Linked DNA regions of Homo sapiens. The protein of the gene in region 3 interacts with the protein of the main gene of each other region in a pairwise test. Each region holds a gene or a part of one and is shown on either strand. Other genes may lie near its edges. The genes, in order: ABCC6, BTG3 and CRYL1.

Region 1 (3,655 bases), on a different chromosome or scaffold from region 3:
GCATGAGACACTGTGCCGGCCACAGTGAAATTAATAACACCCCCTTCACTCTGGGAAGGCTGGGATTTGATGATAATTTATTTCAGAAATTCACTAACTTTTTCCATAAATGACCAGATTGTGCATATTTTAGGCCTGTGGGCCACACAGTCTCTGTCACAACTGCTCAAAGCATGAAATAGAGAAATGAATGGATGTGGCCGTGTTCCAATAAAACTTTATTTATAAGAAAAGGCAGCAGGCAGGATTTGGTCTCTGGGCCACAGTTTGCCTCCCCCTGGATTATGTAGCCATGGGACACGGACAGAACAAGAACCCTGCGGGGTCACCCACAAGCCAGTGAGTAGCAGGGCAATTTGTTCAGTGGGAGAGATTTCTTCCTGCAGCCTCTGCCCCTGGGGGGGGCGGGGGATGGTGCCTGGGGGCCTCTCCGATGCAGAGGCCGGCCAGGTCAGGGGTCTCCTGTAAATGGCCTCTTGTGCCCTGCAGCTGCCGGGAAGGATTGCATCACCATACACAGTGCCACCTTCGCCTGGTCCCAGGAAAGCCCTCCCTGCCTCCACAGGTACAGAACGACACCCGTAGTAACCAGCCTCATGTTTTTAGGGAGAAGATGCATGGGGCTCCTGCTGCCTCCCACCTGAGAGGTGGTGTAGGTTTCCAGCCTGGGACTGGAGGGTGGGTTTGGCTGGGCTGGGGCTCTGCCGGGGAGGTTCTCAGGATACATCTCTACCTCCTGAAGGTGGGGACCTGCACAGCATAGACCAGTATCTCCTGCAGACGGGGACCAGGGCATCTGAGCCTCCCCCATTAGGGGGAGACACCCCTGTGCTCCCAGGCTGGCCAAGACGATGCCAAGGGAGGGCTGGCTGAGAGGAGCCCCAAGGTTCAGCCCTATCAGCTGTGCTCACTTCTGTGCCTCCTGTATCAGTCCGAGGTCATGATCATCTATAGTCTCCAACTCTATCGCTTGGTCTTTGTGGCCAAAAATCTCAGACAGCCCTGAAACTCCCTAAGAAGAGAAGGAATATGCCCCAGGTAGTATTTGTATTGGTTGTCATTCACTCACTTCATCGATAGAGCACTAGGTATGGGCCACGCTCTGTTCTAGGTATTGGGGATAGGGCGAAGGAAACAGACAAGGGCCCTGCTCTCGTGGGGTGACATGCTGATAGAGGTGAGGCCCAAACAGAAAACCAGAGCAAGGGAACAGAGTACGATGGCATGTCTAGCGAGGGAAGGCTTTGCATTCAAGCCGAGATCATAAGGAAGGAGTGTCTGGGAGAAGAGCTGTTCTTTTTTTTTTTTTTTTTTTTTTTTTTTTTGAAACGGAGTCTTGCTCTATCACGCGGGCTGGAGTGCAATGGCATGATCTCGGCTCACTGCAACCTCCACCTTCCGGATTCAAGCAATTCTCCTGCCTCAGCCTCCCGAGTAGCTGGGATTACAGGCGCATGCTACCACACCCAGCTAATTTTTGTATTTTTAGTAGAGATGGGTTTTACCATGTTCGTCAGGCTGGTCTCCAACTCCTGACCTCAAGTGATCCACCTGCCTCAGTTCCCAAAGGACTAGGATTACAGGCATGAGCCACCGTGCCCGGCCTGGGAGAAGAACCTTCTAGGCGGTGGGAATGGCATCAGCAAAGGTCCTGGGGCAGGAGAGTGCCTGGACCTGGGTTTCTCAACCTCAGCACGGTTGATATTTTGGGCTGAAACTCCTTTGTTGGGGGCTGTCGTGTGCATTGTGGGATGTTTAGCTGACCCCAGTCTCTACCCACTAGATGCCAGCAGCACCCCCTACTGGTTGTGACATCCAAAAATATCTCTAGATCTTGCCAAATGACTCCTGGGGGATGCAGTCACCCCCTGGTGAGAACCACTGGCCTTTTGTGTTCAAGAAACAGCAAGGAGGTCAGCAAGGCCAGGGCCGAGCAGCTGAGGCACAGAGCGGAAGGAGGCGGGAGATGTCATTCCTGATCGTCAGGACTTTAGCTTTGACCCTGAGTGAAATGGGAGTGCTGGCGGGTTTAGCTGGGAAGTGTCACGATCTGACTTGGGTTTTAACAGATCCCTCTGGTCACTGGGTGGAGGATGGGCTGTGGGACGTGGACAGGAGTGGGGCGGGACCAAGAGTAGCGGGAGGGAGGGAGGAAAGAGCCTATTTATCGCAAGAGCCAAGGCAGGAGGCCAGGCTGGTGAAACCCTCAGGCTATAGTCAACCCTGTGTGTGTGTGCGTGGTGTGCATGTGTGCACACATGTATGCGTGTGAGCATGGATTGATTGGGTATGTGCATGCACTTGTGTGTGTGTGGATGCGTGCCCACATTGTGTTGCTGTGCATGCTAGCATGCTTGTATGAGTGTGCAAATGTGCATGCATGTGTGCACGCTTTGTGTGCATGTGTACATGCACAGATGTGCACAGGATAGTTCCTCAAATAGCTAGACAAGGACTGGGAAAAAGAACAGCCCCACAGGTCCTCTTGGAGACTCCCAGAGCAGGAAAGCTCAGCTCCGTCTGGGGCTCATCCTTCCTCACAGAGGCGGGCTGAACCCTAACCAAGGTCATGTCTCCCCTCTTGCGTGTCCAGAATAAACCTCACGGTGCCCCAGGGCTGTCTGCTGGCTGTTGTCGGTCCAGTGGGGGCAGGGAAGTCCTCCCTGCTGTCCGCCCTCCTTGGGGAGCTGTCAAAGGTGGAGGGGTTCGTGAGCATCGAGGTGAGGCCACCCCCAGCCTGTCTGCTAGGATGTCCCCATCCTGAAAGTCCCACTTCCTCGCTGCCTTCCCACCCTCCCCATCCCAGCCAAGTTCACTTTCACTCATTCTCTCCACCTCTCACCCACCACTGAGAGCCCAGCTCCCACTGCTCCTCAAAACCTATCCCACCTCTGTCCCCATCATCCTCCTGTGACCAAAGTAAGTTGTGTTTTAGGGTGCTGTGGCCTACGTGCCCCAGGAGGCCTGGGTGCAGAACACCTCTGTGGTAGAGAATGTGTGCTTCGGGCAGGAGCTGGACCCACCCTGGCTGGAGAGAGTACTAGAAGCCTGTGCCCTGCAGCCAGATGTGGACAGCTTCCCTGAGGGAATCCACACTTCAATTGGGGAGCAGGTGAGAGTTTGGGGGTCTTTTTGGGACAGGGAGACATTGCAGTTGGGAGTCATTTGGGTCCCCGACTCATCATGGGCAGTATGATGGAGAAATGAGAGGAATGGTTAGGGAAGTAGCGGAGAAAAAGGGCTCAGCTCAGCGTCAAGCACGTGCTAGGTGCTCAATACGTAATCACTAATTGATAAGCAGAAATAGACACAAAGAGAGAGGCAGGGAGTTGTGGCAGGGATTGGCAGTGAGGAGCTCTCTGACAACTGAGAGTGAGAAGACCTAGACTCCTGTCTTACTCTGCCCTGCCTTGCTGAGTAATGTTGGTGTAATTGCTTCCCCTCTCTGGGCCTCACCAAGGGGTCTGGACAGAGATGTCCAAGAAACAGGATATATGCATCTGGAGCTATGGATTGGGCAGGGGTTGGCAAACTGTGACCCCAAGCCAAATCCAGCCCACCACTTGTGGTTTTGTTTTTTGTTTTGTTTTGGAGACAGAGTCTTGCTCTGTTGCACAGGCTGGCATGCAGTGATGCAATCTCGGCTCACTGCAAC
Region 2 (2,904 bases), on a different chromosome or scaffold from region 3:
GTGAAGCAGCTAGATTCATAAACTTGCTAGTCATGTAAAATAGTACCACTACTTTGGAAAACTGGAACTTTTTAACGTTAAATGTGTAACTCTTCTATTACTCAGCAGTTCCACTCCTAAGTATTAAATATTTACCAAAAGAAACGAAAATATGCCTATAAAGCCTTCTATTAGAATTAACTGTGCTGTTATTCATTGCAGCATTGTTTTGTTCGTTGTGTATCATTGTTTTTTTAATAGTAAGAGACTGAAAACAGCCTCAATGTCCCATTACTAGGAGACCATTTAATTTATAGTCATTGCTATACTATCTAGCTGTAGAAAAATGAGAAGGATCTTTATGTATTGATATGTTTCTGAAATGTATTATTATGAAATGTAAAAAGCAGGATACAATCCAGTATACATATATATTTTTAAAGTGTGTATAGATGTGGATAGAATATCTCTAAAGGTATATTTAAAAAAATGTTTGGTGTCAGTTGCCCTTGAGAAGGGTTAAGATAAAGAAGATAAAGGGTGAGATAAAAAAAGAGGGACTTTCCACAGTTTACCCTTTTGTACTTTTTGAATTTTCTATCATGAATGCAATGCTATACACAATATAATTTTTTTAAAAAAATCCTATACTTAGAAATGCAGATTTGAGATCAGCAAAATCAGAAATTTAAGAAGATGTGGCATTCTAAGCAGAGAGGTCTAAAACTGCTGATAAGAACACTTTGAATAATGTGAACCTGACGTGCCCACCTGATTTATGGGATAATCTAAAACTATTATTCCCAAATACTAAACTGGCTACATCAGAATCACCTGGGGAGCTTTGTCAAAATACCTGGCCTCTAGTTCTGAGATTTTATTATTGTTCATTAGACCAGTGCTAGGGCATGAATGTTTTGTGTTTATCTTTTTTTTTTTTTAACTTTTATTTTAGGTTTAGGGATACACATGAAGGTTTGTTCCATAGGTAAACATGTGTCACAGGGATTTGTTGTACATATTATTTCATCACCCAGGTGTGAAGCCCAGTACTCAATAGTTATCTTTTCTGCTCCTTTTCCTTCTCCCACCCTCCCCTCTCAAATAGACTCCAATGTCTATTGTTTCCTTCTTTGTGTTCATAAGTTCTTATCATTACCTCCCACTTATAAGTGAGAACATGCGGTAGTTGATTTTCTGTTTCTGCATTAGTTTGCTAAGGATAATGGCCTCCAGCTCCAATGTTTTGTATTTAAAAGCCTCCAAGTGACTCCTGGCTTAGCCAGCTGTGGAAACCACTGGACTAAAACAAGCATGTCCTTACAAGCTTCCATTCGTTCCATGTTTTGGTCTTTTTTGGTTGAAGTTGTTTAGGAAGTACTGTGTTTGAGTTTATTCATTTCTTTATGCATTCAGAAAACATTGGTCACCTGTTATACATTATACGCCTATTACACATGAGGTTTTTAATGTATTTAGACCTGACAATAGGAGTGTCACTTAGATGTGATCTCAGTGTTGTGGGTAACTTTGTTTGTCTTTAATGAGAAATCTGGAACATAGATGATGATTTTTTCCTTTGAATTAACTTAATGTGTTCTCTTCCCTACAGATTTCAGAACTTATATTTCCACCTCTTCCAATGTGGCACCCTTTGCCCAGAAAAAAGCCAGGAATGTATCGAGGGAATGGCCATCAGAATCACTATCCTCCTCCTGTTCCATTTGGTTATCCAAATCAGGGAAGAAAAAATAAACCATATCGCCCAATTCCAGTGACATGGGTACCTCCTCCTGGAATGCATTGTGACCGGAATCACTGGATTAATCCTCACATGTTAGCACCTCACTAACTTCGTTTTTGATTGTGTTGGTGTCATGTTGAGAAAAAGGTAGAATAAACCTTACTACACATTAAAAGTTAAAAGTTCTTACTAATAGTAGTGAAGTTAGATGGGCCAAACCATCAAACTTATTTTTATAGAAGTTATTGAGAATAATCTTTCTTAAAAAATATATGCACTTTAGATATTGATATAGTTTGAGAAATTTTATTAAAGTTAGTCAAGTGCCTAAGTTTTTAATATTGGACTTGAGTATTTATATATTGTGCATCAACTCTGTTGGATACGAGAACACTGTAGAAGTGGACGATTTGTTCTAGCACCTTTGAGAATTTACTTTATGGAGCGTATGTAAGTTATTTATATACAAGGAAATCTATTTTATGTCGTTGTTTAAGAGAATTGTGTGAAATCATGTAGTTGCAAATAAAAAATAGTTTGAGGCATGACAACGCGTGTTTCTGTTGTGTGCATAAAAGGGGAAAAGAACGGGTATTTCCCTTCAATGTATTTAACTAAATAGCAAAAACATTAAACAGAACGTAAGAATTTTAAAATTTCCTTTGAAAAATCAACTATTAACCATACTTTTCCTAAAAGACCACATATCAGAATATGCATATGAAAAGTTAAAAATTTGTTAGTGGTAGTTATTGAAAATATAATAAAACATCTTTTAACTATCAGTGTCACTATACATAGGGTTTTTTAACAAAGAATTTGGCTCGTACTAATTTTGACATGACATCTGACTTACATGTCTAATGCCATTGCATAAAGTAGATGTGTTCTTACAGCTGCTCTAATCTCTGTGCCTTGTGCTTTTTTTAAAAAACATTTAAGTCTTTACTAGAGGCCTAAAATAAAGTCAAATAATACAATACTTCAGATTCTTCAGTAGTCCATATTTATACAACTGTAATTCCATCAGTCTTGTAAGGGTACTTGAACTACAAAAAGAAAAAAAGAGATATCTCTATAAGAGTTTTGATTTTTCTCCAAAGGTAAATTTTTAAAAACTAAGATCAGCAATACTTTTTCCATCACCTTCATCTTTAAATTTGCAGTCTTAAATTATTTGA
Region 3 (3,655 bases):
GGGCTGTGGTTAGGGAGACTGTTTCCCAGCCGGGAGACCTCGAAGGTCCTTTTGCGGCGGCTTCCGTAGGTGGACACGGAGGTGTGGATGGAAGTCGGTGTGAATGGAAGTCTGTTTTGGGGGGCTGCGTGGGGCCCAGTCGCTGGCCCCTGCGTCCTAGTCAGCCGTGTGCCTTGTACAGTGGGCGCTGGGCAGCCCTTCAAGATTTTTCGTTGGAGAAGGCATGATCAAAGTCCTGTTTTTTACTTTTAAAATGTATAATTGTGGTAAAATATACATAACAAAATCTACCGTCTTAACTATTTGTAAGTGTGCAGTTTGGAGGCATTAAGGACATTCTCACTGGTGTGCAGCCACCACCACCAACAATCCATGGAACTTTCTCCTCTTATAAGACTGAACCTCCTACCCATGAAACACTAACTTTCCACAGCTCCACCCCAGCCGCGGCACCTGAACCTAGCTTTCTGCTGCTGCTGTGGATTTGATAGGCTCCCGCTACAACACGGATTGCTCTGGGAGGATGAGATAGAGGGGCTGAGACCCCAGCAGGAGTCCCATGAAGGGAGTGCAGAATATATATGGAAACGGGGGCCCTGAGCTGAGGGTGGCAGTGGCAATGATTTTTTTGAGAGAAGAGTAAAGAGAAGTAACAGGACTTCAGTAACTGATGGTGTGTCCGGAGTTGGTCTTGGTGGGTTGTGGTCTTGCTGACTTCGTGAACCACAGACTTGGTGGTGATTGTTAACAGCTCTTAAGGATAGCACGGACCCAAAGAGTAAGTGGTAGCAAGGTTTATTGTGAAGAGCAAAAGGACAAAGCTTCCACAGCAGGGAAAGACAGCGGAGTGGGTTAACGCTGCAGGTGGGGGTGTAGGGGTGTGGGTGGGGGGGCGCGTGTGGGTGTGGGTGGGCGGTAGGGGTGGGTGGGGGGAGTGACCAGCTTTTTTTCCCTAATTGGCCCCTCCCCTGTTCCATTTCTGTCCTATCAGAGTTCCCTTTTTTCAATCCTTCCCCCGATTAGCTACTTTTAGAATCCTGCTGATTGGTGCATTTTACAGAGCGCTGATTGGTGCGTTTTGCAGAGTGCTGATTGGTGCGTTTTACAGAGCCCCGATTGATGTGTTTTACAGAGCACTGATTGGTGCGTTTTACAGAGTGCTGATTGGTGTATTTTACAATCCTCTTGTAAGACAGGAAAGTTCCTGATTGGTGCATTTTACAATCCTTTTGTAAGACAGAAAAGCTCCCCAAGTTCACACTTGACCCAGGGAGTCCAGCTGGCCTCACCTCTCAATGGAAAGTGAGAGGGGCTAGGGAGAGGCAGGGGCCAGGAACATTTCTCCTGGTACTGACTTGGGTGTGGGGATGTGACACATTCTCACTGAGATCAGGAGCCTGCCAGGGTTGGGGACCATGGGGATAACCCACATGAGACAAGTCTGTGCTGGGGTGTGCCCAAGGGAAGGCGTCCAGCACTCAGTTGCAGATGTGGGCCAGGGTGAGGCTGGGATCTGTGTGAGACATGCAGGTGTATTCTGTGTCCTCAAGTCTTGGTGGTGGTGACACCAGGGAGTGGGCACAGATGGGCCACTGTGGCAGACTGGGGGTCACCATCACTCAGTGAAAGTGTGAGCAGGAAAAATCGCAGAGAAGACTGAGAGGAGGGAACTGGTGAGTTGTACATAGAAATGCTTTCTAACTCCTTGTCTCAGTCTGTTTTTGCTACCAGTGAGGCTTACAATGTTTGAAAGACCCCAATCCCAGCATGCCTGCTTTATATAAAATAAGGTAAAATTCATCTGAGAAAGACACACTTCCAGTTCTTCTAATCTTCATTTTTCAAAAGGTCAGAGGTTAAGCGTTTCTATAAGAATTCAGTAGGTGACAGGTGTTTAACCGAGGCATCGATTTACCATCTGTCTATTTGGAAACAGGAGCCGTCTTTTCTTGATTCCTGAGAGGGCAGAGCAGGTGCCCAGGATGGCCCTTATTTCTCCTTTCCTCTTCTGTGGGAGTCATCTTTAAATGGAAGCTTCTGCTCATGGAAGCATCACTTAGCAAATGTGACATTCTACCTATCACCCATGTAGTGGAGGAAAACCCATTGAAAAGCATCATTTCTGTTTGCTGTGGTATACTTGGCTCAGTGCTCAGGCCAGTCAGGTTCTACCAGGCACTGTTTTCTTTGGACATTTGATAACTCTCTGTGAGGAATCTCTAAGAACAGTTTCTCAAAGTAAACCAAGAACACCAGAGTTGAACAGTGAAGTCCAGGGTCCTCCCTTGGGGCATGCTCACCTGGACAATGCCTTCCTGTGTTGGGCTCGTCGGGGTGCTGGGGCTGCTGAGGTGTGTTGATGCCTGTTGATTTCTAGAGCAGGAAGGTGACATTAGACTGGAAGAGGCAGACACTTAAGGTACAATATGGAGGAATTAAGGAAATACCAGGTTTTGGGAAGACACTGCTAATAATTTATTTTTGAGATGATCTGGCACTGTCACCTAGGCTGGAGTACAATGGCACAATCATGGCTCACTGCAGCCTCCACTTCCTGGGCTTAAATGATTCTCCCACTTCAGCCTTCCAAGTAGCTGGGACTACAGGTACACAACACCACACCTAGCTAATTTTTTTATTTTTTGTAGAAACAGGGTCTCGCTGTGTTGCCTAGGCTGGTCTTGAACTCCTGGGCTCAAGTGATCCCTCCACCTCGACCTCCCAAAGTTCTGGGATTACAGGTGTGAGCCACCGCACCCAGCTTGCCAATAATTTTTAACACTGACACAGAAGAATGTCAGAGCCTGTGGTGACTGCAGATGGGAAGACATGATTCTGGGGGGTGGTGGGCTGGGAGGAAGCTTTGAAGACAAGACAGATGGGAGCAGAGAAACTCTGTCCTGGGGAGGCCAGGGGCTTGAAGATTAGCCATAAACATACAGGATAGCAAGCTGTTCCTCCAAATTCCAACTTTGTATTTTGGGTATTTTTTTTTAAACAAAACCACACAATTCTGCATCAGGTTCCCTTTTTCTCTCTCCTTTGTGAATAAATTTCTTTCTCAAGTATCTTGTTGTTGGCCACTGAATCTAAAGGCACCATTCCAAAGATGCATCTGCTGCTCCTGACCATTCAGGGTGGGTGCAGTTCCCCAAACCCAGGATCATCTCCTTGACTCCCCCACTTCTCTCTCTCTCCTAAGGTGAATCCGCCATACTACATCCCGCTGGTTGAGCTGGTCCCCCACCCGGAGACGGCCCCTACGACAGTGGACAGAACCCACGCCCTGATGAAGAAGATTGGACAGTGCCCCATGCGAGTCCAGAAGGAGGTGGCCGGCTTCGTTCTGAACCGCCTGCAATATGCAATCATCAGCGAGGCCTGGCGGCTAGTGGAGGTGTGTGTGCCCGTCCTCTCTCCCTCCCTCCCTTCCTTTCTCCCTCCTTCTTCCCTCCCTCTCAAAGTTGAGCAGGACAGTGAAAGTTGTTCCTTGGGCAGCCTGGAAGCTGGGAAAGTCAGAGGCTGCTTGCTTCTTCTTGCTCTATTCTGGAGACCAAGGGCCAGCTTTAGAACCAAAATAAAATGCAGCGATTCACTGTCTGCCTGAGAGGTTCTTCTTACAGTCACCTGATACCAGGACACGATGACAGGCTTC

Evidence for each region.
Region 1: the proteins of CRYL1 (region 3) and ABCC6 interact in a two-hybrid assay, tested with the Homo sapiens proteins (one large-scale study listed by BioGRID and IntAct).
Region 2: the proteins of CRYL1 (region 3) and BTG3 interact in a two-hybrid assay, tested with the Homo sapiens proteins (one large-scale study listed by BioGRID and IntAct).

Annotation. Positions count from the first base shown.
Region 1 is NC_000016.10:16,181,869-16,185,523, reverse strand, and holds part of ABCC6 (ATP-binding cassette sub-family C member 6), read left to right. Parts: intron 1-489; coding exon 490-565; intron 566-2,593; coding exon 2,594-2,720; intron 2,721-2,935; coding exon 2,936-3,112; intron 3,113-3,655.
Region 2 is NC_000021.9:17,593,020-17,595,923, reverse strand, and holds the end of BTG3 (protein BTG3), read left to right. Parts: intron 1-1,591; coding exon 1,592-1,831; 3' UTR 1,832-2,271; downstream 2,272-2,904. UniProt on the Homo sapiens protein: Overexpression impairs serum-induced cell cycle progression from the G0/G1 to S phase.
Region 3 is NC_000013.11:20,431,844-20,435,498, reverse strand, and holds part of CRYL1 (lambda-crystallin homolog), read left to right. Parts: intron 1-1,652; exon of another isoform or gene 1,653-1,721; intron 1,722-3,202; coding exon 3,203-3,397; intron 3,398-3,655. UniProt on the Homo sapiens protein: Has high L-gulonate 3-dehydrogenase activity. It also exhibits low dehydrogenase activity toward L-3-hydroxybutyrate (HBA) and L-threonate.